Linked DNA regions of Homo sapiens. The protein of the gene in region 1 interacts with the protein of each later gene in a pairwise test. Each region holds a gene or a part of one and is shown in the gene's direction. Other genes may lie near its edges. The genes, in order: DNALI1, E2F8, IFI35 and THAP3.

Region 1 (7,300 bases):
CAGCAACAGCTAACTGCCCCCTTCCCCTTCCCAGCTGAAGGGGGCCAGCCCCTCCACACCTGTGGGTATTTCTCCTCAGGCAGGAGGAGAGACTAAGAAAAGAAATAAGACACAGACAAAGTATAGAGAAAGAAAGGTGGGCCCAGGGGACCGGCACTCAGCATACGGAGGACCCGCACCGGCACTGGTCTCTGAGTTTCCTCAGTATTTATTGATTACTATTTTCACTATCTCAGCAAGAGGAATGTGGCAGGAGAGCAGGGTGATAGTGGGGAGAAGATCAGCAAGAAAACACGTGAGCAAAGGAATCTGTGTCACGAATAAGTTCAAGGGAAGGTACTATGCCTGGATGTGCACGTAGGCCGGATTTATGCTTCTCTCTACCCAGACATCTCAGTGGAGTAAAGAGTAACAGAGCAGCATTGCTGCCAACATGTCTCGCCTCCCGCCACAGGGCGTTTTTTCTCCTATCTCAGAACAAACGTACAATCAGGTTTTATACTGAGACATTCAGTTCCCAGGGGCAGGCAGAAGACAGAGGCCTTTCTCTTATCTCAACGGCAAGGGGCCTTCCTCTTTTACTAATCCTCCTCAGCACAGACCCTTCACGGGTGTCAGGCTGAGGGACGGTCAGGTCTTTCCCATCCCACCAGGCCATATTTCAGGCTATCACGTGGGGAGAAACCTTGGACAATACCTGGCTTTCCAGGGCAGAGATCCCTGCGGCTTTCTGCAGTGCATTGTGCCCCTGGTTTATCGAGAATGGAGAATGGCGATGACTTTTACCAAGCATGCTGCCTGTAAACATTTTGTTAACAAGGCACATCCTGCACAGCCGTAGATCCCTTAAACCTTGATTCCATACATCACATGTTTCTGTGAGCTCAAGGTTGGGGCAAAGTTACAGATTAACGGCATCTTAGGGCAAAGCAATTGTTCAGGGTACAGGTCAAAATGGAGTTTCTTGTGTCTTTCTTTTCAACGTAGACACAGTAACAGTCTGATCTCTCCTTCTTTTCCCTACACCAGCCCCGCCTCTTCTACAAGTCCTCCAGCTGCCAACCACTATATTCTTGGCAACTTGAGTTCCTCACCCCTTAGCAGATGTTTGGAGTAAAACGATAACTTCCATCTGTTTTTTCAAAGATTTTCTATAATAAGCATGTGCTAATTTTTTAGTCAGAAAGATTAATGTTCAGTATTTACATCCATCCATCCATCCATCAATATTTGGCCCTTGGTCCAGAAAAATATTGTGATTTGTTGTTAACCCACAGACACGAGAGATTTAAGATGCACCTCCTTGAGTGCTGGTGTCAAATGGCTGTCTCCCAGCCCAGTCTCATTGGCTCTTATGGACGCCGATCTGCAAACCACCTCCAAACCCTCAGGCAGCTGCAGGGTCTAGCAGGCTTCCCTATCCGTGTGTTATTATGGTTTGCCCTCCAGGTCAGCATTTATGGGGAGATAGATGGGCAAGCTCTAGACCCTGCCATTTCCCTCAAACCAGTGCAGCCAAGGGGGCACACAGGATGTCCCAGCTGCTTTAAAACAGCTGCCATCTTTAAACAGAAAAAGTCAGGTTTTTTCGAGTAGTAACCAGTTTTTACCTAAGGCAGGAAGGGAGGGGACCCAGTGCTGTAAACAAACCAGAGCCTCTTGTCTCCTTTGCTCTGGCCAACCCAGTCTTGCTGACTGTGCTACTCACAAGTGCCAAGTTCAGAGGAGTGACTGCATGGCAAGGCTCTTTGGGCCACTGAAGGCACCCTCCCTGAGGCCCTTCTCTGAGGCCTTGCACTTTGTCTCCAAGCGAGAACACCCTAATGTCCTTCCCAAGAGGAAGGGTGTTTGCAGTAGACATACTGCAAGCCCCCTCCCCACGCCCTGTCTGATCTCATGGTGTGTGTGCATTGGAAGATGAGTTGATCCGGGAGGTCACCATCAACTGTGCGGAGAGGGGGCTGCTGCTGCTGCGAGTCCGGGACGAGATCCGCATGACCATCGCTGCCTACCAGACCCTGTACGAGAGCAGCGTGGCGTTTGGCATGAGGAAGGCACTGCAGGCTGAGCAGGGGAAGTCAGACATGGAGAGGAAAGTGAGTGGGGTTTACCGTGACCCTTGGTCCCATCTCTTCTGTAAACCTCAGGGCCACATGCTTATCATTCCAGCACTACATTCTGACCTCCTAAGGTGCTCTGCTGACAGTCACGACACCTGGACTTGCATCACCTCAGTGAGGGACCCCTGGTTGAGTATGATGGCCAGCCTGGTGGTCTTGGCAGAGTTGTTTCCGCTGTAGACGCTCCATGCCAGGCACTGACCTCCCACTGGGTGGCAGTATATACCCTGGCAATGTCATGTCCCATGTCCCTTCCACCCAGGCTCACACCATTCCATTCACCTGGCGACATCCCAGGATGACTGGGCATTCTCTCCTCAGATCGCAGAATTGGAGACGGAAAAGAGAGACCTGGAGAGGCAAGTGAACGAGCAGAAGGCAAAATGTGAAGCCACTGAGAAGCGGGAGAGCGAGAGGCGGCAGGTGGAGGAGAAGAAGCACAATGAGGAGATTCAGTTCCTGAAGCGAACAAATCAGCAGCTGAAGGTAATCAACGCGCAGGGTGGGGTGGAGGTGCCCCCTGCCCTGCGACCCAGCCCCACAGGCCAGGCATTCGGTTCCTTTTCCATGGCTTTTAAATGTTTGTCCACATGCACTGCCAAAGGATAAAGGAAGCTGACTTTGGTGGTGGGAGAAGGGGAGGGCTCCAGAGGGGGTCTCTACTCTCAACTCCAAATCTCTGAGGCGCCTCAGCCTGGCTCTCCAGTGGAGGATTCTTCTCCCTGGAAAAAAGTTGCCCATCCTCAAGGAAGAGGTGGATATGGCAAAAAGTGGAACTCCATTCCCCTGGAAGCTGGTATGTTGGAGCCTTTCTGGAGGGGGCTGGGCTCCAGGTGGCTTGCGTGGTAGTGCCATCCCATGGCTGTCTCCTCTGAGGCCCTGTTTCAGGGCATAACCAGGGAAGAAGTCAAAGGGCAGCAGGGCCCTTTGAGAGGAAGAACCATTTCAAATCAGAAACCTTCCCCAGAAATGTGGTCGGGGAACCCAGGCACAGGTGCTCTTCCTCGAAGTCCGATGCCAGCAGTGGTCTTTTATCCAGCTGAGGTGATAGGAGGGAGGGGGCTGGTGGACAAAGCTGGGCAGGAGGCCATGCTACAGGCACTGCAACTCCCAGCTGTTTGGTCCAAAGGTCTCAAAAGGTAGGCCCTAGATCAACATCGTCCTCACCTGGCAAAGCAAGACAAATTATTGGGCCCACCCCAGATCTACCAAATCAGAAAATTCGGGGTTGGGGTCCAGCAATGTGCTTTAACAAGGTCTCAGGTGATTCTAATGTTTGCAGAAGTTTGAGCATCACTGTTCTGGAAAGATGGCCTACTGACATTTAGTGGCCTTCTCCCATGGCCCTGGCCAAAGGACCCTGGATGGATCTCCCTCTCCTCCCTAGGCTCAGATAGAAACCTTACAATCTTGACATTGCAGGCTTGTTTGGTCTACACACCAGCAGGACTGGCCATTTGCGATAAAGAAGGCTTTCTGTTAACCACTACTGGAACTTTTCTTGTTGCACAAAGAAAAGCAAGAAACTTTCACAGCCAGAGATGAATCTGTTTCCTTAGCAGCCTCTGAGGCTGCTTTCCTTAACTGCCATATTCCTTTTTCATAAGCCTGAGTTCCTCAGTTCTTCCTGGATTAGCAACAAGAGCAAACCAAATACCTTAGCATGTTTCTAACATTTAAAAGCAATCTTGTAATCTCCAGGGTGAAAGATTCTTTAGAAGTTGGCATTTTTAAATTTTTTTTCTTTTGAGACGGAGTTTTGCTCTTGTTGCCCAGGCTGGAGTGCAATGGCACCATCTCAACTCATTGCAACCTCTACCTCCCGGGTTGAAGTGATTCTCTTGCCTCAGCCTCCTGAGTAGCTGGGATTACAGGCATGTGCCAGCACGCCCGGCAAATTTCTGTATTTTGAATAGAGATGGGGTTTCACCATGTTGGCCAGGCTGGTCATGAACTCCTGACCTCACATGATCTGCCCACCTTGGCCTCCCAAAGTGCTGGAATTACAGGCTTGTAATACAGGAAGTGAGCTATTTTTATTGGCTCAAAACTGCATTGCAAATAAAGCAGCTTTGCTGTCCCCAGGATAGACCTACCTAAAGATCTGTCCAGTATTATTTTATTGGCTACCAGAGGAACATAGTAAATAACTCCCAAGTGTCTTAAGCTTTACATAAAGAGGGACAGCTCTCGGCTGGGTGTGGTAGCTCACACCTGTAATCCCAGCACTTTGGGAGGCCGAGGCAGGTGGATCACATGAGGTCAGGAGTTTGAGACCAGCCTGGCCAACGTGGTGAAACCCATTTCTACTAAAAATACAAAAAGTAGCTGGGCGTGGTGATGTGCATCTGTAATCCAAGCTACTCAGGAGGCTGAGGCAGGAGAATCACTTGAACCCGGGAGGTAGAGGTTGCAGTGAACCGATATCACACCATCACACTCCAGCCTGGGTGACAAGAGCAAAACTCCATTCCCCACCCCCACCCCCCAACAAAGAGGGACAGCTCTGTATTCACTGGCAGCATTTCTCTAATTGTGTGCCAAGTTGTCTCAGTGGCTGAAAATTCACTGTTTCCCAAACCTCTGGTCCCAGCAGAACTCCCAGGATCCTAAACCAGAGAGCCAATATTTTTTTTTTTTTGAGACGGAGTCTCCCTCTGTCACCCAGGCTGGAGTGCAGTGGCACGATCTTGGCTCACTGCAAGCCCCGCCTCCCAGGTTCATGCTATTCTCCTGCCTCAGCCTCTGGAGTAGCTGGGACTACAGACGCCTGCCACCACGCCCAACTAATTTTTGTATTTTTAGTAGAGACGGGGTTTCACCGTGTTATCCAGGATGGTCTGGATCTCCTGACCTCACGATCCGCCCGCCTCAGCCTCCCAAAGTGCTGGGATTACAGGAATGAGCCACTGCGCCCGGCCAGAGAGCCAAATGTTTAACTTAGCAGACATATTCTGGCCTGAAACCTGAGCCATGAAAAGCCCTTACAACAATGCATTCAATATCCTTTTCAATGCTTTATATCATACCCGGAGCCATTATTGTGTTGAAACCAGGACAGCTCTGGCTTCTCCTCATATACTAAAGACTGTATGCCAAGCTAGAAACTAGCTAATCTAGAAAATATGGATTTGGGGATCAAGGGGAAAAAGAACCCTTGGAGTGACAGCATGTGGATTCTTCTTCCCAGAGATTTGATCACCTCTCAGCTATTTGTATCAGGCTGCAAGTTTCAAGTATTAATGGAGCTTGTTTTTGTTTTTCAGGCCCAACTGGAAGGCATTATTGCACCAAAGAAGTGATAATTTCCACATGATTAATTTCCAACAAGACACTTGGGAGTTATTTACTGTGTTCCTCTGGCAGCCAATAAAATCATCATAAGCCCTTTGTAATAAAAAGCTAGTTTCCTGAGTGAACAAGCCATAACCTCCCCTAAACACCACCTAGGTATTTGTTAGAAGTCACACTATTACTCCAATGTCATCAGACACCTAAGGTCTGCCAGCCAGGCTCCTGGCTGGGCAATGGAAGATGGTGTGGCCCTGTTAGTCTCCGTGTGTGGCTTACTAGCCAGCCTTGGGAACTGCCAACTCAAATTCTAAGAAAGCCACTGCTTTCTCATCATCACTCTATACCAATACTTATTTCTGGCCAAATGAATCTGCTTCTCTGCCCCTCAAACTTTTAGTTCACAATTCATCTTCTACCTTAACTTGGGCTTCTTGGGCCTCTGGCCTTCCTTACTTAATGTCTTCTTTTCCCTACTCTAATGCATTTCTAACTCACTTTGGAGCTTTGGTTTTCTAATGTATTATCCCCACTTGCCAGTCAACTGGACCCCTTCCTCCTCGGTTTCAGACTGCCTACATTAGGAAACAATGGCAGTCAAACCCATGGCTTTGGAGAAAGTAAATGTTTGCCAGAAAGGAATACTAGTCACAGTGGCCTTTGTGAGTTGTCTGCAACTCAGCTCTTCCCCCAGCACAGATCTGTTCCCCTTATCCTGCAGAAAATCAAGCCCTGACTCTGCACTCCCCGAAGTAGTGATGTTAATTAACAACTGAAGAGGTAACTAAATCTCACATGCAGGTCTAATGACTAATAATTGGAGTACGGCTGCTAGACAACTGCATTTTAGTATTTCTCTTCCATTCTCCTGGTTTTGTAGACCCAGAAGATTGAATGAGTGACATAAATCTTTAGTTCGGGGCAAGCCAGGGTGGGCTAGGGTGGTAAGCTGGAGGACTTCATCCTTCAGTTAGGCTGCACAAGTAACATTACCTAAAAGGCACTAACATGCTCAGGTTCCCCAGAAAGAGGCGTAAGAAGGGCCTCTCCTTAGCAGAGCTTCCACCTGCCATCCGTCTTGGGTTCAGTGAGCTTCAAGGCTCACAATGGAAGCACTGTCATTTCCCCAGAAAAGCTGTGTTCCCTATGCTGAACACACCATACACATTCTCATCTGGAATCTAAGGAGCAGCTTTTACCCTGATCCAGTATCCTGAGGAATTTTAAGCCTCCACTCAAATGACCTGCCTGTGTTGTCATTTCCATGGGAAAGAACTCTTTCCACGAGATCTGCTAGTTCCAGGCCTCTAAGACAGGAACGTATGTGCCATAAGTGGGTCTACTTCACAGACTCAATGAGGCAGAAATTATTGTAGTTTTCTCCTATTTCTTCTGCACCCAACTTTCTCCTTGTATTTCAAAGGCCAGGCCATGTACACTAACGTCCTTGAAATTTGCAGTTCTGTATGCTTCTATTCCAAATCATTCATTACCAATAAAAACGAAATACCACCCTTTCCATTTTATAGACCTCATCCCCTATTTCTGTCAGACAGTTATATGACAGGGTGACTGTGGAACCTCTTAGTTCATCCAAAGTCTACCTGAAGTGCTAGACTTTCAGACTCTTATCACTGAAATCCTTAAGGTTGAGGAGGCTTTATTTCCCTAGCACTGGTGAAGGGCTTCAACTGTCAAACCTCAGAACAAATGCATTAGGGCCTTAGAAATGTCAATGGGGCAGGAAGAAAACACAATTTCTAACTGCCTGTTTTTGTATAATTTAATAAAAACCTTTTAAACATTACTGCTTTTGTCTGAATTTTTTGCGTTTGTGTTTCTGTCCCTCTGAGTCATTGGTCTTCTTTTTGTTCCTGTTCCTATTTTTC
Region 2 (7,460 bases), on another chromosome or scaffold:
GCCTGGCCAATATGGTGAAACCCCATCTCTACTAAAAATACAAAAATTAGCTGGGCGTGGTGGCGCGCACCTGTAGTCCCAGTTACTTGAGAGACTGAGGCAGGAGAATTGCTTGAACCCAGGAGGCAGAGGTTGCAGTGAGCCGAGATCACACCACTGCACTCCAGCCTGGGTGACAGAACAAGACTCTGTCTCAAAAAAAAACAACAAAAAAAGAAATTAGAAGCAGTAATTGCTCAATAAATGGCAGCAACTGTTGCTGCTGCAGCTGAGTCCAGGGCTGCAAATGTCTATATGGGGCTCATCAGGATACATCAGGGCCTATCAGGAATTTCCCACAGGAGGTCACAGGAGAGTCTGAAGGGATTTCACACACAGCCCTGCTGCTGCCTGGGACTTACTCTGACCTAGTCTAGCTCCACAGTCAGCACAAGCCAGCTCCAGGCATGCCCACTTCCTGGGTCCCTTGCTTGTATCCATCCTCTTTAACCCTGCCCAGACTAGACCCAGCATGATTCATTTGTAGGCTTAGTACAAGGACCAGGAATAGCTGAGATCTAGCTGTGAGCAGCCACAATCCAACCCAGCACATAGGGATTTGTGCAGTTTTAAGCTCCAGAGAGCTGTTTCGTGGTATCTATGCCAACACGTACTGCAGATAAAGCACAAACCCAAATTGCCCCACTAGGTCAGGAAGCAGAGTTGGTGATATAAGCACCTAGGAGGTGGGGCAGCAAGACAGACAGAAAAGGTCAAGAAACCCATTAGCTAGAACTCCTTCCTTAGCCCTTCATCCTTCCCTGCTCAGCAGGGGAAGGTCTTGCCTGTCTTTTTGGTGATGATGAAAAGGGACACGCTTCAGAAATCCCAAATGTTACCTTTGAATGTAGGCGCCCCGGTGATGCCTATCTTTCCTCCTTACCTTTGATATCTTTTTTCATAATACTTTATTTAATGCTGAACGTGTTACACAACGTATCAGCCCTCCAAGTTGTGCAATCCAGAAGGGCGACAGCACAGAGTAGAAAAACTGGTCTAACTTCAGTGAGACACAGATTACACAACATGATGAACAAAAGACCAGAAACAAATACACAAATATTCCCTTGGATTATGTAACTAATAAGTGGAAAACATATTTGATGGGAAAATTAAAAAAAAAAAAAAGTTTCAAGCTTATGCCCTGATCCTTCCTTCTTGGTTATGCAGTAAACATAAAAGTTTTCAGTAGTCTTTTCCCTCCTTTACACTCATGCTGCATTTCAAATTGATACTCTACACAGTGATGAGTAGAACCTTTCTTTCTTTATTACCTTTCATTACATGAAAGTGTTGTTAAGACTTCAAAACTGTATCACTTCACTCTTAATAAAACCACTTTTCAACATATTCAATGAGTTTGACTATAATTTCACTTCCTTCAGTAAGACATGACAACTATCAGTAAGCAAGAATTACACTCTCACCTTCCTGTTTTTTTGTGTGTTTAGGGAGGGGTTGAAATGGTTAAGGGCTAGCCTGAGTTGGCACTAACATTGCTCTCACAGGAACTTTCAGAGGCAGTGGAATGGGATGTATGAACTTGGAGCAGGTAGACCTGGATTCTAATTCTGGCTCTGTAGCTAACTTGGCCATCAGTTTAACCCTTTTGTGCCTCAGTTTTCTTCTCTATAAAATGGGACACAACTATCCTATGAAGCAAGTAAGGATGAGCACGCCGCACAGTGGTGAACACAGCTTTCAGTGGAAAGCCCTGAGACGTTAAACACCCTTGGCTTCAAATCCCAGTCCTGTCCCTTACAGTTAGACCTTGGGTTTGTCACTTTAAAATGCTGCTTCCCTCTCAGAGTCATAACCCATGCTTTCACACCTGTGCTGAGTATGAAATGAGAGGCCATCTGTCAAGTGTCACCAGAGGTGGCTGCTCCCTGCATGATGTGCCTTACAGGTAACTGTCACTCAGACATCTGCAGCATGAATGGCCCTGTAGATCACAGATTTGAACGAATTAGTCACTATCTCTGAACACAGGTGCATGAGGCAGACTGCTTCTAAAGAACTTTAAAAGGGATTTATGGCCCACAGGACTCCGGGGCTGTAATAACTTCGGGTACATTAGGCATAGCTGAATCTATGCACTCTTGGGAGCGCTGACCATTCAGGGGGTTGGGGGAGATGACAATCTGGCCAACAGCTAGTGGCTAAAGCAGAAGCACCAACTCCCCACTTTTTGTTGATACATTTAGAACCCAGTCTTGCTCCAAAAAAGGGGTACCTGGGCTTAGTAAGAACCAGCCGCTCAGTGCTAGCAACGGTGGAACCCTATATAGTGACCTCTGCTTTATTTCAAATCTGCGAGCCACAGGCAGTGGCCCCTCTGCACAGTACCTGAAAGGCCTGCTTTCAGGTCGAAGCGCCTTCTTGAGCAAGACCTGCACCTCAGCTGGCGACGAAAGGGGGACAGGGACACGACGGCGCCAACATTCCAGGGCGGCCACACCGCAAGCCTGCGGTCGCGTTCCGCGGGGAGATGAGCCTTCGCTCGCCACGGAGACCCCTGGCCCTATGGCCGGCAGCTGCTGCGCTGCGACCCCAGCCTCAATATCATAGCATCCCCGCCCTCATCGCGTTTCGCAGAAAATAAAAATGCCTCGCCCTGCTAGTCAGCAATGGGAGAGTCACTGATCCCCAAGTTAGCGGTGGGAGTGGGGAAGTGTGGCCCCGGGCCCTGCTGGAGCCTAAAGACACGCGATTACAGAGGAGGACGAGCCAAACCGAGTCCAGATCGAGAGACCGGCGCCCAGATCTCGGCGCGGTTGGGCAACACTCAGCACCAGTCCGCAGAAAAGTCTAAGGCAGAGGAGAGCAAAGGGAGCCAACGCGGGCGCAAATGATCCAGGTGCAGCCGAGGCAGCGCCGCCGCCCCGGGCCTCGGTGTCCCGTTCTGCAAAGTGAGGACGAAGGATCGAAGTGTCTCCCCGACCCTGCTAGGGCTCTACAGGGAACCAGGCTAAAGCTGCCTGAGGCTCGGAGACCGGAAAAAGAGGGAAAGACAACAGGGAAGAGAAAGGGAGGAGTGGGTGGGAGACCCTGAGGAAAGACGGCGAGGACAGGGTTGGAGGGTTTTCCGCCTTCCTCCTCTTCCTCCTACACCTGAGTTCTCACCGCTGGGCCAAGGCCCAGAGCCCACGGAGCTTAGGCACCAGTAGCCAAGCTTCTCCCTCCTCGCGCCAGTTTCTGCGAGGCACGGGGCAGACGGTGGGCAGCACAATCATGCATGCCAGGGGTGCAAGGGGGAGAGGTCCGGCTGGAGTCCGAGGGCAGGTGAGCCGGCCTGGGGCTGGGCAGGGGTGAGATAGCCCCAAGCGGGGAATCGCAGGGCGCCTGCGGCCCAGCCCGCGAGCCCCGGACGGGCCAAATTTTATTCCCCAACTTTGAGCAAGGGGAGGGGGTGTATGCAAAAAAAAAAAAAAAGGAAAAAAAAGTTGCTGAACTTTTCCCCCAACTCTGCCGTAGAGGCGGGAGTGGAGGGCGGTGCCTGCACCGATTCGCCGGCGGCTACGGTCGGGAGGCTCGGATTGGCGCTCGGGGGCCGGGGCCGGGGCGAGCGGGCGTGGGGGAGGGGAGCGGCCCTCCCCGCCCGCGGTATCGGCTCGCGCCGGGAGCGGGTTAATTTCAAATCGGGGGCTTGGCTGCTCCTGGACGGTCACGCTCCCTCTGCCCGCCAGCCGGCCCGCCAGTCCCGGTCCCGGCGTCTCTCTCCGGCACCCACCTCGGCGCTGCGGAAAGACTGACTGCCAGGTACGCGGGCTCCCGGGCCTGAGAGGGGCAGCGGTGCTGACGAGTCCCGGCTCAGCCCCCGCCGGCTCCCGCCGTGAGGTGGACTGACAGGTCAGCGGGACGCAGAGGGGCGCGGCGCCCGGGCGACACGGCACCGGGAGAGGGCTCGGGAGGGTGGCGGCGGCGGCGGCGGCGGCCGTTTCCCGCCTCCCGCTTCGCCGGGGGCCGTGAGGGAGGAGCTGAGCTCCCGCGCAGAGGGGCGGGGGCGAACGAGGGGGAGGGGCGGGGTTGCCGTGGTTCCGGGCGCGGGTTTGCCCGCGCTCAGGCCCCGCGCAGCTAAGGGGAGGCGCCGGCCACGGTCCGACTTTCCGCGCCAAATTTTTAAATCGAAGGCGGAAGGTCCGGCCCCGCCCCTGGCGCCGTCGGCCAATCGCAGGCCCGCTTCCGGCCCTCTGATTGGTCGGGAATTGTTGTCCTGGAAACCACGATGATGCTGTCCGGGAACTGTCGGGACTGCGGCGGGCGGACAGGGCCTGGGGGAGGGGCCTTTGGCCGAAAGTTGGGGGAAGTGCACTGAGCGAGTGGCGGCCGGGGGACAGTACCTGCTTGCCTTATTGGGCAAATACAGCCTTCCAAGGTGGAGTCTAACGCCGTGGTGTGAACTGGCCACCCGAACAGGGAGTAAATAGTGCTTTGTATCTTTAAGGAAGCCCTTTTTTAAATTTAAAAAAAAAGTCTTAATTATAAGACTCTTTAAATGCCCAACTGCATACTTGGAGCTTTGGGACTGAATTTGGAACTTTCCTGTCAAGCGACCTCCCACGACTTTACTGCTGAGCCTGTGCACGTGTGTGTAAGGGGAGAAATCCAGGCATCTAGATGCAGACTTGTACCCAGTTACTTGGGGTCGCGTGCGCTCAGCTGGGACCTGGGCTCGTGCGCTTAGTCCGGAGCCCTGATCTGCGAACAGGTGGGTGCTTCCTAAAGTATTCGCTGGGGTCCGGAGAATGGCTCGCCTTTTCTACAGATGGGAGAGGGCTGTCACTAGAAATTCCGTGGGTTGCTTGAAGTCTTAGGACCGCCGATCCGTTTGCTGAAGGAATTTACTGGCATTTGTTGGCGTTCTCCGCTCAGTGGGGCGATCTCTGGTCGAGAATAAAATGTAAATCTAGTTTGTCATTTTTCGTTAGGCTTTGTTTCCGTAGCCTCTTGTCCGTGAAGGAATTTTCAACAGATCTTTTGGTTCTTGTTTTTCTCTAACTTTTTCTATTTCCTTTTTTCTTTAAGGATATTAAAACTTTTAGTACAATTGATTGGACTACTTGAACCATCGGGATTTGGGGAGGAACTCCAGATTTTTCATTTTTAAACTCTAAATGTATGAGGAATTTACAGAATGGAGAACGAAAAGGTACTTTATAACTTCAGTATTCATCATTGCAATTTTAAATTCAGTATCATCCTGATTTAACTCCATAATTTTTCCCTATCCAATGTGTTTTCTTAATGCCACAACCTTGGTTAGCCTCTGTAAAGACCTGGAAAAAATGAACCTTATCTTATAGTTTCAAAAATATATAGTTTAAAATATATACTAATTTAATTAATATAGTTTAAAAAATGAAAATTATCTTAAAAAGAAATTCAGTCTCCAATCATGTCAAATGCCCTTTCTGAATTCCAGTTGTTCAAGAATCCTCAGAAATGTTGTAATGAAACTAACAAATTTTATTATTCTTAAAAATACCTTTTCTCTCTTTATGTCTGAGACAGCTACCAAATCATTAAAAACTAGAAAGAGTGTAAAGGGGCAAACCTACCCCTCTTCAAAAATTCGTTAGTTTCATTACAACATTTCTGAGGATTCTTGAACAACTTGGAATTCAGAAAGGGCATTTGACATGTTTGGAGACTGAATTTCTTTTTAAGATAATTTTTTACCAAATTGGCAGCTTATTTATGGGGTCTGCAAAATGCTCTGTTTAGGGGGCAAACATTTTGTAAAATTACAAAAGAATTGTCTGTGGGGGGTGTCCAACTACTAATAGGTTTAAAAAAGTGAACTTACATGCATATTTCCTAATAGTTTTAGATGTTAGTCAAATAAGAGAATTACTATTGCTTCTGATAATCTGAGGCAAAGAAAAAGCCTATTGTCAGATCAGTACATCTCAGATGCACACACTGGCAAGGAGCTCCTGTTGGGTCCACCATACTGACTTCCATGTAAGAAGAGCACCATACTTGGAGTGAAAATATCTGTGTTCCACTCCTACGTGACCTCTCTCAGCCTGCATCTTCTCTTCTGCGAGCTAAGAATGCAGGATTCCATGAACATACAAACGGAAATGCACTTGATAAACCCAAGATGTCACAACATGTCCCATTTGTCCATGTTCTTAAAGTTATTTGGTCTGCCTATTATTTTACTTATTGCTGTTCCAAGCATTTTCTTTAAAATAGATAAAGATGGGAGTAGTGTGTGAAGTCCCTGGTGTCCAAAACTGGAAGGAACATAGTCTCCATTAGCCTTATTTATGAACTGCTGTTAATTTACCCTTTTGTCTCAGTGGCTATCCTGCTTCTGCCAGGATCTAGCTTTGTGGTCTTAGGTAGCTGTTAGGTTGATGCAAACATAATTGCTGTTTTTGCCATTACTTTCAGTAGCAAAAGCCACAATTACTTTTGCACCAACCTAATCATTTTACTTCTCTGGGCCCCATTTTCTCTATCTGTAAAATGAGGGAGTGGATGTTCAAAGAGCAGACTTTTCTGGTCAGAAATCCTGCTGTTGGACACTCTAGATTTCCCTGATAAATCTGACCATATGCTATCCCTCACTCTTGTCTCCTTGTCTCTCTGACTCTTCAGTGGTATTTTATTTAGCACCCACTGCATGCAGCCATTATGCTAGGTGGATAAGAATTTCTGCCCTGTAGGCCTTTACTTATTACAGTGCCATGAGTAAACAAAAGTCATTTCTAGAAGTTTGATCATTTAACATTGTCAGTCCAATTAGGGGAAGCTGAGTGAAGGGCATTTGGGAACTCTATACTGTCTTTGCTTCTCTTCTCTAAATCTAAAACTATTTCAAAATACAATTAAAATTATAAGTCCTAACTAAAGTTGTTTTTTCAGTGGTTGAAACATAAGGTGAAAACATTTATGGCTTATTGCAAAATTAAAAATGGGAAATGTAATTATTAGAATTGACAATACACATCACATGACCATTAGAATACAGTTATTAATTTCCTCAACTCTACAATCTCATTAGACATTTTTTCCTTGGCATGATTCTATTCGTTATGCAATTTCTAGAATCCAAGCTGTCTGATAAATCCTGTTTTACCATGGATTTAATTATTTACATTTTTTAAACCAGGAAAATCTCTTTTGTGAGCCACATAAAAGGGGACTAATGAAAACACCTCTGAAAGAATCCACCACAGCAAATATCGTGTTGGCAGAGATCCAGCCTGACTTTGGCCCTTTAACCACACCTACCAAGCCCAAGGAAGGCTCTCAGGGAGAGCCGTGGACACCGACAGCCAACCTGAAAATGCTCATCAGTGCTGTGAGCCCTGAGATCCGCAACAGAGATCAGAAAAGGGGTTTGTTTGACAACAGAAGTGGATTACCTGAGGCCAAAGACTGTATACACGTAGGTTTTCAGAGGA
Region 3 (8,168 bases), on another chromosome or scaffold:
ATCACGAGATCAGGAGATCGAGACCATCCTGGCTAACACAGTGAAACCCCGTCTCTACTGAAAGTACAAAAAATTAGCCAGGCATGGTGGCAGGCGCCTGTAGTAGTCCCAGCTACTCGCAAGGCTGAGGCAGGAGAAGGGCGTGAACCTAGGAGGCGGAGGTTGCAGTGAGCCGAGATTGCGCCACTGCACTCCAGCCTGGGCAACAGCGAGACTGTGTCTCAAAAAGTGGGGGAGGGCCTCATTTGATGATTCTTAGCTAGAAAAATAAAGTAGTTGTGGGAAATTGAGAATGAAACATTGAATTTTACATTTTATTGGCTTGAATCCAATAAATGTTAAAAGTGAATTTTCAGGCCGGATGCGGTGACTCACGCCTATAATCCCAGCATTTTGGGAGGCCAAGGCGGGCGGATCACGAGGTCAGGAGATCAAGACCGTCCTGGCTAACACTGTGAAACCCCGTCTCTACTAAAAAAATACAAAAAATTAGCCAGGCCTGATGGCGGGCACCTGTAGTCCCAGCTACTCGGGAGGCTGAGGCAGGAGAATGGCGTGAACCCGGGAGGCGGAACTTGCAATGAGCTGAGATCACACCACTGCAGTCCAGCCTGGACGAAAGATTCAGACTCCGTCTCAAAAAAAAAAAAGTGTGAATTTTCAGATAATGTCATCGGGACATGGCTTTTGATGGTTGCTTCTAAGGAGTCAGACCCTGATTCCCTAGTGTCCCACAAGGATTTGGGCTGTATAGGGGCCCCGGCAGTATGTGGGCTAATCCTGCCTCTCCACCTTTGTCCCCAGGTACTCTGTGGATATCCCCTTGGACAAAACTGTCGTCAATAAGGATGTCTTCAGAGATCCTGCTCTTAAACGCAAGGCCCGACGGGAGGCCAAGGTCAAGTTTGAAGAGAGGTAAGTAGGCTTTGGTAGTGAATGGTGGAGTATGGTTTCACTATTTCCATTCCTTTCCTCATTGGTGTCCTCTTTTTTTCCCTTCTAGATACAAGACAGGCAAGAACAAGTGGTTCTTCCAGAAACTGCGGTTTTAGATGCTTTGTTTTGATCATTAAAAATTATAAAGAAAAAAAGCCTGTGTCTGCATGCTGTATGTATTACCAGACTGTGAAAAGGAGAACATTATTGAATAGGAAACACTGGGTGGGCTGGGCACGGTGGCTCACGCCTGTAATCCCAGTACTTTGGGAGGCCAAGGCGAGCGGATCACCAGGTCAAGAGATGGCCAACATGGTGAAACCTTGTCTCTCCTAAAAAATACTAAGAATTATCTGGGCCTGGTGGTGCACGCCTGTAGTCCCAGCTACTCGGGAGGTTGAGGCAGGAGAATTGCTTGAACCCGGGAGGCGGAAGTTGCAGGGAGGGCTGAGATAGCACCACTGCACTGCAGTCTGACAACAGCAAGACTCCATCTCAAAAAAAAAAAAAAAAAAAGACGCTGGGTGATGGATGAGGGGCTGGGAAAATGTTAAATCTGCCTTAATGAGATTTATGCTGCCTCTGTCCTTAGCCTGATAATCCCTGTGAAGAATTGTGTAGCCTCCCTGGCTTCTACCCATTACATGCCAGGAGAACCTCTGCCACACACACTCTGCCCCTCCTTGTGACAACCAAAGGCCCCTGAGTGGTGGGGATCAGGTATTTTTGATTGAGAACCACTAACCTGAAATTCTCAAACCTTAGCACAGATAGAGGTCACCTGGATGGTTTGTTAAACCACGGATTGCTGAAATCCTGCCCTCAGACTGATCCAGTAGGTCTGAGTTTCTAGCAGGTTTTCAGGTGACACTGGTACTGGTGTAGGTGAGATGGGGACCACCCTGGAGACCTGCTCCTGGTGGTAACGACAGATGCCTTTGGTGAATCCCTGAGCCTAGAGCAGCTGTTTAATAGGACAAGGGAGTGCTCCTCAAATGGCCTGGCTGGCAGAGACTTGAAAGAAAGTGATCAAAGGAGCTTTGGGGCATTGGGTTGTGCCACTACTGTGTAGTGCAGGAGAGACATTTGGTTCTTAGGATCTGGCATTTTATCTCTCAATGGACTGTAACTAGTCATGTTTCATGAATGAAATAGGTGCTCCATCTGAATGGTTCTGTCGCTAGAGGGAACTAAGATTCAAACAGGCCAGTTTGCCAAGTCTGCTAGGTACCACACTTGCACTTGGGAACCAGAGGGGGCGGGGTGGCGGGAAGGGGCCAAAAGTAGGATTGGTGAGTAACTGGAAAAAACTTTGGGCTAGGTTACTAGGAAACTTTTTTTTTTTTTTTTTGAGACAGAGGCTTGCTCTGTTGCCCAGGCTGGAGTGCAGTGGCACGATCTCGGCTCACTGCAAGCTCCGCCTCCCGGGTTCACGCCATTCTCCTGCCTCAGCCTCCCGAGTAGCTGGGACTACAGGCGCCTGCCACCATGCCCGGCTAATATTTTTGTATTTCTAGTAGAGACGGGGTTTCACCGTGTTAGCCAGGATGGTCTGGATCTCCTGACCTTGTGATCGTTCTACCTCAGCCTCCCAAAGTGCTGGAATACAGGCGTGAGCCACCGCGCCCAGCCACTTTTTTTTAAGATGGAGTTTTGCTCTTTCACCCACCCAGTCCGGAGCGAGGTGGCACTATCGGCTCACTGCAACTTCTGCCCCGCCCCGGGGTTCAAGCGATTCTCCTGCCTCAGCCTCCCAAGTAGCTAGGACTACAGGAGTGTGCTACCACACCCAGCTAATTTTTGTATTTTTAGAAGAGATGGGGTTTCACTATGTTGGCCAGGATGGTCTTGAACTTCTGATCTCATGATCCACCCACCTTGGCGTCCCAAAGTGCTGGGATTACAGGTGTGAGCCACTGCACCCAGCCAGGAAACTTTTTAATTGAATCTTCACACACTTAAGTATTAAGGCATCTCTATTGAGACAGACTTCTATTAAGTAGCTTGCCTACTCAGGGTCACAGAAATGGGGCTGAATTTAAAACTTTTGAGGAAAAATACAGCAAATTTTTTTCCACTCTACCTCAAGGCCCAAGTGTAAATACTGTTCCTACCAGGTTTGGATCCATGCTTTGATTCCTAGCCCTGTGACCTTGGGCAAGTTTCTAATGCTCTGTGCCTCAATTTTCTCATCTGTAAAGTGAAGAAAATAGAACCAACTTCATGGCATTGTTTTGAAGAGTTAATTCATGTAAGGCACAAGCGTGTTGGGCAGACGATAGCTCTCCTTGCTGGCCACTGTTAACAGTTTTGTGAACTTTTTTCTTTTTTTTTTTTTTGAGCCAGAGTCTCGCTCTGTCACCCAGCTGGAGTGCAGTGGCACGATCTCGGCTCACTGCAAGCTCCGCCTCCCGGGTTCAAGCGATTCCCCCGTCTCAGCCTCCCGAGTAGCTGGGACTACAGGCGCATGCCACCACGCCCGGCTAATTTTTGTATTTTTAGTAGAGACAGGGTTTCCCCATGTTGGTCAGGCTGGTCTCAAACTCCTGACCTCAAGTGATTCACCGCCTCAGCCTCCCAAAGTGCTGGGATTACAGGCGTGAGCCACTGCACCCAGCCTTTTTTTTTTTTTTTTTTTTTTTTTTAAGAGACAAGATTCACTGTGTTGCCCAGGCTGGCCTCGAACTCCTGGGCTCAAGCAGTCCTCCTGCCTCAACCTGCTGGAACTATAGGCACATGTTACCAGTGGGCCCAGCTGCTGGGATTGGCACTTTTTTTTTTTTTTTAGTCAGAATCTCACTCTGTTGCCCAGGCTGGAGTGCAGTGGTGTGATCCGGCCCGGCTAATTTTTTGTATTTTAGTAGGGACAGGGTTTCACCATGGTGGCCAGGATGGTCTCGTGATCCACCCGCCTGGACCTCCCAAAGTGCTGGGATTACAAGGCATGAGCCACTGCGCCTGGCAGTTTTGTGAACTTGAACTGTGGACTTTATCTGTCCTGATTGTGTTTCTCATTCATTCAGCAATTATTATTTTTTGAGATGGAGTTTCGCTCTTGTCACTCAGGCTGGAGTGCAACAGCGCGATCTTGGCTCAATGCAACCTCTGCCTCCCAGGTTCCAGCTATTCTCCTGCCTCGGCCTCCCAAGTAGCTGGGATTACAGGAATACACCACCACACCCGGATAATTTTTGTATTTTTTTAGTAAAGACGGGGTTTCACCACGTTGGCCAGGCTGGTGTCTAACTTGGGATCTCAGGTGATCTGCCCACCTGGGCCTCCCAAAGTGCTGGGATTACAGGTGTGAGCCACCGCACCCGGCAGTTTTGTGAACTTGAACTATGGGCGTTATCTGTCCTGACTGTGTTTCTCATTCATTCAGCAATTATTGTTTTATTTATTTTTTGAGATGGAGTTTCACTCTTGTCACCCAGGCTGGAGTGCAATGGCACCATCTCAGCTCAATGCAACCTCTGCCTCCGGGTTCCAGCTATTCTCCTGCCTCGGCCTCCCAAGTAGCTGGGATTACAGGAATGCACCTCCACGCCCGGCTAATTTTTGTATTTTTTTAGTAAAGGTGGGGTTTCACCATGTTGGCCAGGCTGGTCTCTAACTCCTGACCTCAGGTGATCTGCCCGCCTGGGCCTCCCAGAATGCTGGGATTACAGGTGTGAGCCGCCGCACCCAGCTCATTCAGCAATTATTTTATCAATGTTCAATGTGCCCAGCATTATTCTAGGCTCTAGGGAAATAATCCATTGACAAAGCAGGGTCTACCAATGGGCTTGTCGGAGATTGCTGGGAATGGTTGATGGGGGCCAGTTTGCAGTTGGGGTGAGGTGGCTTTCCTTGAGGCAGCCTGGCTGAGTGAAGTCGACTTTGCTGACCAAGAAGGCTCCTCCCAGGGGTGGGGAAGCCTCGGCAGGGGGCGGCATGTGAGCGCCAGAAGGCAGGGATTTCACGGAAATGAAAGTGGAAGCAAACAGCCTGCGAGCAGAGCCTCCTGAGGTGTATTTCGGGTCTTGCTGGGGCTGAGAGAGACCACAGCCCTTTGGGGGGTACAAACAAGAGTTCAGTTGCTGTGAATTCTGCCACTGTGCCCAGCTCTGAAGCCTCAGCTCTTGCCAAACAGACCCGAGACCCATGTCAGCCCCACTGGATGCCGTAAGTGAGGAGGAGGGAGTTGGGAAGTGGGGAAACAGGAGTAATCCTCTTGGCTAGGAACCTGCAGATATCTCAGGGCCTGGCAGCCAAGCCTCACCCTGCCCATCTCAGACCTGCTGAAGGGCTGGGGAGAAACACAGGGCTGGGGTTGCCTCTGCAAGAGTTGGTTCCCTAACCTATTGCCTCAGACAGGAGGAGCTCATTAAATCCTGTGTGTGTACACTTCTCTGGAGAGAGAATCTGTAGTTTCCATCAGATACTCAGCGGGTTCTGTGACCCAAATAACAATTGTTCTAGGCCGGGCGTGGTGTCTCACGCCTGTCATCCTAGCACTTTGGGAGGCCTTGGCAATACAGTGAAAATCCGTCTCTACTAAAATACAAAAAATTAGCTGTGTGTGGTGGTGTGCGCCTGTAATCCCAGCTACTTGGGAGGCTGAGACAGGAGAATCACTTGAACCTGGGAGGCGGAGGTTGCAGTGAGCCGAGATTGCATCACTGCACTCCAGCCTGGGTGACACAGCGAGACTCTGTCTAAAAAAAAAAAAAAAAAAATTAAACTAAAGGAATTAGGCTGGGTGTGTTGGCTCACACCTGTAATCCCAGCCAGCACTTTGGGAGGCTGAGGCGTGTGGATCACTTGAGGTTAGGAGTTCGAGACCAGCCTGGCCAACATAGCAAAACCCCATCTCTACTAAAAACACAAAAATTAGCCAGGCATGGTGGCACACACCTGTAATCCCAGCTACTAGGGAGACTGAGGCGGGAGAATTGCTTGAACCTGGGAGGCAGAGGTTGCAGTGAGCCGAGATTGTACCACTATGCTCCACTCTGGGCAACAGAGGGAGACTGTCTCTCACACACACACACACACAAAATTTATATATATATATATATATATATATACTATAAGAATTATACTTTAAGAATCACACTAGGTAATCCATAGATTAACACGGTAAAAACTTATCCCACTGCTTAGCACCTACAGAGCATTCAATATGTGTTTCTTCTTAATATTATTATTGCCAACCTTTTCAGAACCCCAGTTCCCCAAGGACAATCCCTTTTTTTTTTTTTTTTTTGAGACGGAGTCTCACTCTGTCTCCTAGGCTGGAGTACAGTGGCATGATCTCGGCTCACTGCAACCTCTGCCTCCCGGGTTCAAGCGATTCTCCTGCCTCAGCCTCCCAAGTAACTGGGAGTACAGGCACGTTCCACCATGCCTGGCTAATTTTTTGTATTTTTAGTAGAAATGGAGTTTCACCGTGTTAGCCGGGATGGTCTTGATCTTCTGACCTCGTGATCTGCCCCCCTCAAGCTCCCAAAGTGCTGGGATTACAGGTGTAAGCCACCATGCCCGGACTTTTCTTTCCTTTTTTTTTTTTTTTTTTTTTTGAGATGGAGTTTCACTCTTGTTGCCCAGGCTGAAGTGCAATAGCATGATCTTGGCTCACTGCAACCTCTGCCTTCCAGATTCAAGTGATTCTCTTGCCTCAGCATCCCAAGTAGCTGGGATTATAGGCACACATGCCACCACGCCTGGCTCATTTTTTTTTTTTTTTTTTTTTTTTGAGATGGAGTCTCGCTCTGTCACCCAGGCTGGAGTGCAGTGGCAGGATCTCGGCTCACAGCAAGCTCCGCCCCATGGGTTCATGCCATTCTCTTGCTTCAGCCTCCCAAGTAGCTGGGACTACAGGCACCCGCCACCACGCCCAGCTAGTTTTTTGTATTTTTGGTAGAGATGGGGTTGCACTGTGTTAGGCAGGATGGTCTCGAACTCCTGACCTCGTGATCCGCCTGCCTCAGCCTCCCAAAGTGCTGGGATTACAGGCGTGAGCCACCGTGCCCAGCATGGCTAATTTTTTGTAGAGACAGGGTTTCAGCATGTTGGCCAGGCTGGTCTCGAACTCCTGACCTCACATGATCTGCCTCCCTTAGCCTCCCAAAATGCTGAGATTACAGGCTTGAGCCACAGCACCCGGCTTTATATACGTTAAATTGGGCCATCTTTTTCAAATAAAAATCCAGATTTTTTGTTTTTTGGAGACAAGATCTCACTGTTTTTTCCAGGCTGCAGTGCAGTGGCTGGATCATGGCTCACTGCAGCCACCTCCACCTCTAGGGATCAATAGATCCTTCCATCTCAGCCTCCCGAGTAGCTGGGACTACAGGCATGTGCCACCATGCCTGGCTAATTTTTAAATATTTTGTAGAGGTAGAGTTTTGTCCTGTTGCCCAGGCTGGTCTCAGACTCCTGGGCTCAAGCGATCTGCCTCCCTTGGCCTCCCAAAGTGCTGGGATTACAGGCATGTGCCACAACAACCTGCCCAGATTTTTTATTTCTATTAAAAATGGGAAGATTAGGGGGCCTGGGTCCGTGGCTCCTGCCTGTAATCCCAGCACTTTGTGAGGCTGAGTTGGGCAGATCACTTCAGGTGGGAAGTTTGAGACCAGCCTGGCCAACATGGTGAAACCCCATCTCTACTAAAAATAAAAAATTAGAGCCGGGCACGGTGGCTCACTCCTGTAATCCCAGCACTTTGGGAGGCCGAGGTGGGTGGATCACGAGGTCAAGAGATTGAGACCATCCTGGCCAACATGGTGAAACCCCATCTCTACTAAAAATACAAAAATTAGCTGGGCATGGTGGTGCGTGCCTGTAGTCCCAGCTACTCGGGAGGCTGAGGCAGGAGAATCGCTTGAACCCGGGAGTCAGAGGTCGCAGTGAGCCGAGATCCTGCCACTGCATTCCAGCCTGGCGACAGAGCGAGACTCTGTCTCAAAATAAATAAATAAATAAAAAATAAAAAAAATTAGCCAGGAGTGGTGGCAGGTGCCTGTAATCCCAGCTACTTGGGAGGCTGAGGCAGGAGAATCTGTTGAATCCGGGAGGTGGAGTTTGCAGCGAGCCGATATTGCGCCACTGCACTCCAGCCTAGGCAACAGAGGGAGACTCCGTCTCAGAAAAGAAAAAAAAATAGAGGGCTGGGCGCGGTGTCTCACACCTGTAATCCCAGCACTTTGGGAGGCTAAGACGGGCAGATCATGAAGTCAGGAGATCGAGAC
Region 4 (6,495 bases), about 31 Mb from region 1:
ACTCCTTCCTTCTCAATTTTACCATCTACAGGCAAACCTTACTGCATGGCTTTCAAAATACATCCAAGTCTGCCCTCTCATTACCACTTCCTGCCAATGCCTGGTCCCACAGCAGCCAGGGTGGACCCAGGTTCCATCTCACCTCTGTCTAGAGCCTCCAGGGACTCCCCAGCTGCTCAGGGCCCTGCGTCATGCAGTCCCCACTCCCTCTCGCTGTCTCAGCTGGACCTGCGTGAGTGGCCGTTCCTGCTGTCCCTTCTGAAGCCTGCGTCGCTTGTGCTGCCACTTCCTGCGGTCTGTGCTCAAACATCACCCCTTCAGCTGCCTCTCCTCACCACCCCAGGGCTTCCCTCTGTCTGTTCTCTGGAGCAGCTGTCATCCCCAGAAGACACCGTCCACATCTGTGTGGCTCATCACTGTGCCCCCGCTCCAGAATATCAGCTCTTGGGGGCCAGGACTGTCTCATTACCCCCCATCCCTAGCACGAAGAACAGGGCCCGGCTCCTGGTAGGCTCCTGGCAAATGTAGCATCGGAAGCAGCTCACTTGGGCTCTCTGGCCATGCTCGTGGTCTCGGGTTTCCTATTAAGAGTGCTTTAACAGCTGTGACAGAAGCTTCCAGAAATTAGATGTGATTTAATAAACCGAGAGGACTGAATGTCCACAGCTGTCCAGGGAAGTACTCTGTAGTGATGTGAAAATTCCGAATGACTCTGAGGCGCTGGGTCCAGCCTTGCTGGGCCTCACACCCCGTGCCTCTGCCCTTAGGTTTCCGTTCAGCCGCCCGGAGCTGCTGAAGGAATGGGTGCTGAACATCGGCCGGGGCAACTTCAAGCCCAAGCAGCACACGGTCATCTGCTCCGAGCACTTCCGGCCAGAGTGCTTCAGCGCCTTTGGAAACCGCAAGAACCTAAAGCACAATGCCGTGCCCACGGTGTTCGCCTTTCAGGACCCCACACAGGTAGGAGGGCACTGCACCTTCCGTCTGGTCACATCCAGCCTGCGTTGTTTACCAGCAGCTGGGGGCAGTGGGGGTGGCGGCATGTGTGGGAAAAGCCAAGGCCAAGAACTCCAGTGACAACAGCACTGTCACGCCTCTGGGGTCCACAGCCCTGTGGCCCTGCTGGCCATGACCTCGGCTTTAAGAGAAGTCATAAATTAAAGGCATTTTAAAAATGAATTATTCTATGGCTGGGTGCGGTGGCTCACGTCTGTAATCCCAGCACTTTGGGAGGCAGAGGTGGGTGGATCACCTGAGGTCAGGAATTCGATACCAGCCCAGCCAACATGTTGAAACCCCATTTCTACTAAAAATACAAAAATCAGCTGGGTGTGTTGGTGGGCACCTGTAATCCCAGCTACTTGGGAGGCTGAAGCAGGAGAATCTCTTGAACCGGGAGGCAGAGGTTGCAGTGAGCCAAGCTTGCCTTGGTGGAGGTGGGATGTGTGGGCCTGGCTCAGGAGAGGGCTCACAAAGAGTTGGATGCTGAAGCCTTGAGATCGCATGATAGGCCACAGGGGCACCCACGTGGAGTGGGCAGGCAGGGCAGTGGCGGGACAAGCCACAGGCCAGCAGCTCCCTGCATTGGTGGATTTATGGGGAGAGGAAAGGGATCCGTGAGTGGAGAGTGGAGCCGATGGGAAGAACAAAGCGGCCACGTAGCAAACACGCCCAGAGCGGCCGCCTGGGAGCCCCTGCCCCATCTGTCCTCCCCAGCACCCTTCCCAGATAGCCTCATGCAGTCTGCCTGAACCTCTTCAGGTTGGCAGTCCCTTCCTTCAGGAAGCCCTTCTGGACCCTCAAACCCCCTCTTGCCTCCGACCCCTTCCTGCCCCTCAGTCTTCCTGGCCCCTGTGGCCCCTGCTGTCCTTCCTGTTTCCCTCATTGGTTTTGTCTTCTCCCCTGGAACAGAATCTCCATGAGGGCAGGGGCTGCCTTCCCTGCTTCAGGCCCCACACCCAGGACGCTGCCTGGCACAGCCCAGGTGCTCGGGGTATGTGTCCATAGATGAACACTTTAATCACCTTCACGTATTTGTGATAACGTTTGTCCTGGAAAGATGACACTTGAGCCACTGGGAGTGGGGACGTTTGTCACTGTAGCCCTCGGTGCTTCCAGTGCCTGGTTGGTGGGGAGAAGCTGGGTACGGCCTCTGCCAGCTCTGCTTTGTGGGCCCCACCCCAGTGTGGCCCAGGGGCTGCAGGTTCTGGGTCAGTGGCACCTCGAGTGGTGAGCTGCGCTTCTGCTGCTTGCTGGCGGTCATGGGGCCAGGTGCCAGGCCCTGGGGTGACACATAGGAAGTAGATGGGTCCCTAGCTCTACAGGGACCTATTCAGGGCACTCTGACCATGATTTGAGGACATCTTTGGAGAAAGAGAAGCGCACCAAGCGGGCAGTGTGAGTTGGGCTGAGCTTCAGGTCAGTTTCATTTAGCAGCTGTTCGTTGACTGGGGCATGCAGTGGGCCGAGCAGCGGGGACAAGCATGATGCCCGAGGCCTGCCCCGAGCTCTGAGGGTTCTTGGGGTCTGCATCCACTCTGTGTGTGTCTCTTGTAGCAGGTGAGGGAGAACACAGACCCTGCCAGTGAGAGAGGAAATGCCAGCTCTTCTCAGAAAGAAAAGGTGAGTGCACCGGGCCAGGTACTTGAATGTTTAAATTATGCTGTGGGTTGAGACAGGGAGGTGGGATTTTCCCAGCAAGGCCGGCCCGCAGGGCTGTCGCCTTTCCTCATATGCCAGTTTGGATTCCCGGTTTTTCTGGAGGGAAGGCCCAAGCCTCTCAGCTTCCTTCTTTTCAATATCAAAGAATCTCAGTTGCTAGTAGGGATCGTGCCTGATTCCCTTTTTCTTTTCTTTTTTTTGAGACTGAGTCTCGCTCTGTCACCCAGTCTGGAGTGCAGTGGCATGATCTCGGCGCACTGCAACCTCTTCCAGGTTCAAGTGATTCTCTTGCCTCAGCCTCCCGAGTAGCTGGGATTACAGATGCCCGCTACCACGCCCGGCTAATTTTTGTGTTTTGAAATAGAGACGGGGTTTTACCACGTTGGCCAGGCTGGTCTCGAACTCCTGACCTCAGGTGATCCACCCACCTCTGCCTCACAAAGTGCTGGGATTATAGGTGTGAGCCACCGCGCCTGGGCCCCCACTTTTTTTTTTTTGTAGAGATAGCATCTTGCTATTTTACTCAGGCTGGTCTCAAACTACCGGGCTCAAGCCATCCTCCCACCTCAGTCTCCCAAAGTGCTGGGAGTATAGATGTGAGTCACTGCACCCAACCTTTTTCTTTGTTTTTGAGACAGGGTCTCACTCTGTTGCTCAGGCTCTGTACAGTGGTGCAGTCATGGCTCGCAGCAGCCTCAACCTCCCAGGATCAAGCCATCCTCCCACCTGAGCCTCCCAAGTGGCTGGGACCACAAGCATGTGCTACCATGCCCAGCTAATTAAAAATTTTTTTTTTTTTTTTTTTTAGAAATGGGGGTCTTGCTATCTTGCCCAGTCTGGTCTCAAACTCTTGGATTCAGGGGATTCTCCTGCCTTGGCCCCACAAAGTGCTGGAATTATAGGCGGGAGCCACCGCACCTGGCCGTGCCTGATTTCTTAAAGTTCAGTTCCAGGGCCGGGCGAGGTGGCTCACGCTTATAATCCCAGCAGTTTGGGAGGCTGAGGCGGGTGGATGTCTTGAGGCTAGGAGTTTGAGACCAGCCTGGCCAACATAGTAAAAACCCCATCTCTACTAAAAATATAAAAATTAGCCGGGCTGGGCGCAGTGGCTTGCGTCTGTATTCCCAGCACTTTGGGAGGCCGAGGCAGGCGGATCACCTGAGGTTAGGAGTTCGAAACCAGCCTGGCCAACATGGTGAAACTCCATCTCTACTAAAAATACAAAAATTCGGCTGGGCCTGGTGGCTCACACCTGTAATCCTAGCACTTTGGCAGGCTGCGGCAGGTGGATTGCCTGAGGTCAGGAGTTCGAGACCAGCCTGGCGAAACCCCGTCTCTACTAAAAATACAAAAATTTAGCTGGGCATGGTGGTGGATGCCTATAATCCCAGCTACTCTGGAGGAGAATCACTTGAACCCAGGGGGCGGAGGTTGCAGTGAGCTGAGATCGCACCACTTCACTCCAGCCTGGGTGAAAGAGTGAAACTCCATCTCAAGAAAAAAAAAAATTAGCCAGGTGTAGTGGCATGTGCCTGTAGTCCCAGCTACTCAGGAGGCTGAGGCAGAATTGGTTGAACCCGGGAGGCAGAGGTTGCAGTGAGCCGAGATCATGCCACTGCACTCCAGCCTGGGTGACAGAGTTAGATTCCGTCTCAAAAAAAAAAAAAAAAAAATTTAGCCAGGCGTGGTGGCACATGCTTGTAATTCTAGCTACTCAGGAGGCTGAGGCACGAGAATCACCTGAACCCTGGGGGTGGAGGTTGCAGTGAGCCGAGATTGCACCACTGCACTCCAGCCTAAGTGACAGAGCGAGACTGTCTCAAAAAAAAAAAAAAGTTCAGTTCCAGGGTGTGTGCTAGGGAGAAGCTGGCTGTGGAGGGGCACAGACCCTGGAGCTGGTCCCTGGCTGTTGCCACTCCCCTAGAGGGACAAGTAGCAGCTGCAGGAGGGCCCTGCATGTGCAGGGCTGTAGTGCAGACTTCACCCTGCCGTTCCCAGGTCCTCCCTGAGGCGGGGGCCGGAGAGGACAGTCCTGGGAGAAACATGGACACTGCACTTGAAGAGCTTCAGTTGCCCCCAAATGCCGAAGGCCACGTAAAACAGGTAAGACTGAGTGCAAAGGTGGTCTGTGGTTGGACACAAGATGACTTGCTCCAAACAAAATGGAAACCAGTGAGCACCCACCATGAGACCTGTGTGGCCGAGGCAGGGTGTGCAGCCTGGGTTTCAGAGCTCCCCAGTCAAATTCTCCACCATGGTGTGGGCACATCTGGATTTTGGGGGAGCAGCCCGGAGTGTCTAGCTGCCCTGGGGTTGTGCTGTGTGCGTGTCTGGTGGCCTGCTCACCATGGCCCGCCTTCCTGCTGGTGATGCAGCTCTAGGCTCTCACTCCCCTGTCCTCAGGTCTCGCCACGGAGGCCGCAAGCAACAGAGGCTGTTGGCCGGCCGACTGGCCCTGCAGGCCTGAGAAGGACCCCCAACAAGCAGCCATCTGATCACAGCTATGCCCTTTTGGACTTAGATTCCCTGAAGAAAAAACTCTTCCTCACTCTGAAGGAAAATGAAAAGCTCCGGAAGCGCTTGCAGGCCCAGAGGCTGGTGATGCGAAGGATGTCCAGCCGCCTCCGTGCTTGCAAAGGGCACCAGGGACTCCAGGCCAGACTTGGGCCAGAGCAGCAGAGCTGAGCCCCACAGGCTCCGGACGCAGAGGTGGCAGTGGCACCAGGGCCGGCAGAGCTTTGGAGCTCTGGCTGTGGACATTTTTGTCTGCTGTGGACACTGAGAAAGTTGGCCATGAGGCCTGCTTGGCCGGGGATCGAGACAGTAGCCAAGCTCCCCGGCGAGAGCCCCAATGCCGTCTGGGGGACGTTTAGAGGCGTGGCACTAGGAGTGCACATCTGTGAGCATGACAAGCTTATCCTCCCATGGTAACAGAAGTCCAGGCTGAGGCTGATTCTGGACGCTGTCCTTTCAGCACACGCAGAGCAAAGATCGTTGGAAGCCCCAGTGTGGGAGATGCTCCTCAGGGAGGAAGCCATGTGAGGGGGCTGGCTCTGTGGCGGGTGAGTGGTCCCCTCCTCCATCAGCCTGGACAGCCGCTCGGGGTTCTAAGGAGTGACTCCTGTCCCGGCCTGGTGTGAGTGGGCAGTGTAATAAAGTGTCTTTCTATACGGTGTCGCTCCCATCATCATTTTCTCTAGTGCCGTGATTCCTTCTAAGAAGACTGACTTCCGTGGCCGGGCGCAGTGGCTCATGCCTGTAATCCCAGCACTTTGAGAGGCCGAGGTGGGGAGATCACTTGAGGTCAGGAGTTCAAGACCAGCCTGGCCAACATGGTGAAATCCCATGTCTACTAAAAAAGACACAAATTAGCCAGGCGTGGTGGCACACACCTGTAGTCCCAGCTACCTGGGAGGCTGAGACAGGAGGATCAGCTGAACCCGGGAGGTGGAGGTTGCAGTGAGCCGAGATCACACCACTGCCCTCTAGTATTGTCACTGGGTGACAGAGCGAGACTCAGTCTGAAAAAAAAAACTGACTTCCTATTTTGTCTAATTTATAGCTTTAGTGAATTAAAGAAAAAAGTTCTAGCCTGATTTCCTAACTTGGGGTCTATTTATTTCTCAGGCAATGTTGTTTAATGTAGAAAATGGAACCCCAGCTTCACGTGAAGCCTTGTGGTTGAGTGAGGAGTGAAGGATGGGGAGGAGGCCTCTGGGGAAGGGGTTCCCTCCCTCCTGAAGATGAACACACAATACACGGAAGAGCGCCAGCCTCTGCTTTCAGGAAAGGTTTATTGTGGTGAGTGCCTTCTGTACAGTCGACTGCAAATGA

Evidence for each region.
Region 2: the proteins of DNALI1 (region 1) and E2F8 interact in binary tests that used the Homo sapiens proteins (3 or more experiments, as listed by UniProt).
Region 3: the proteins of DNALI1 (region 1) and IFI35 interact in binary tests that used the Homo sapiens proteins (3 or more experiments, as listed by UniProt).
Region 4: the proteins of DNALI1 (region 1) and THAP3 interact in binary tests that used the Homo sapiens proteins (3 or more experiments, as listed by UniProt).

Annotation. Positions count from the first base shown.
Region 1 is NC_000001.11:37,559,640-37,566,939, forward strand, and holds the end of DNALI1 (axonemal dynein light intermediate polypeptide 1), read left to right. Parts: intron 1-1,917; coding exon 1,918-2,096; intron 2,097-2,441; coding exon 2,442-2,606; intron 2,607-5,386; coding exon 5,387-5,422; 3' UTR 5,423-7,215; downstream 7,216-7,300. Other genes in the region: GNL2 (nucleolar GTP-binding protein 2), read right to left, coding at 7,216-7,300. UniProt on the Homo sapiens protein: Involved in sperm flagellum assembly.
Region 2 is NC_000011.10:19,237,838-19,245,297, reverse strand, and holds the start of E2F8 (transcription factor E2F8), read left to right. Parts: upstream 1-4,352; 5' UTR 4,353-4,750; intron 4,751-5,067; 5' UTR 5,068-5,176; coding exon 5,177-5,191; intron 5,192-7,165; coding exon 7,166-7,444; intron 7,445-7,460. UniProt on the Homo sapiens protein: Atypical E2F transcription factor that participates in various processes such as angiogenesis and polyploidization of specialized cells.
Region 3 is NC_000017.11:43,001,869-43,010,036, forward strand, and holds the start of IFI35 (interferon-induced 35 kDa protein), read left to right. Parts: upstream 1-4,915; 5' UTR 4,916-5,079; coding exon 5,080-5,100; intron 5,101-8,168. Other genes in the region: RPL27 (large ribosomal subunit protein eL27), read left to right, coding at 805-915, 1,004-1,052. UniProt on the Homo sapiens protein: Acts as a signaling pathway regulator involved in innate immune system response.
Region 4 is NC_000001.11:6,627,732-6,634,226, forward strand, and holds the end of THAP3 (THAP domain-containing protein 3), read left to right. Parts: intron 1-767; coding exon 768-960; intron 961-1,911; coding exon of another isoform or gene 1,912-1,993; intron 1,994-2,556; coding exon 2,557-2,622; intron 2,623-4,638; coding exon of another isoform or gene 4,639-4,659; coding exon 4,660-4,764; intron 4,765-5,064; coding exon 5,065-5,346; 3' UTR 5,347-5,831; downstream 5,832-6,495. UniProt on the Homo sapiens protein: Component of a THAP1/THAP3-HCFC1-OGT complex that is required for the regulation of the transcriptional activity of RRM1.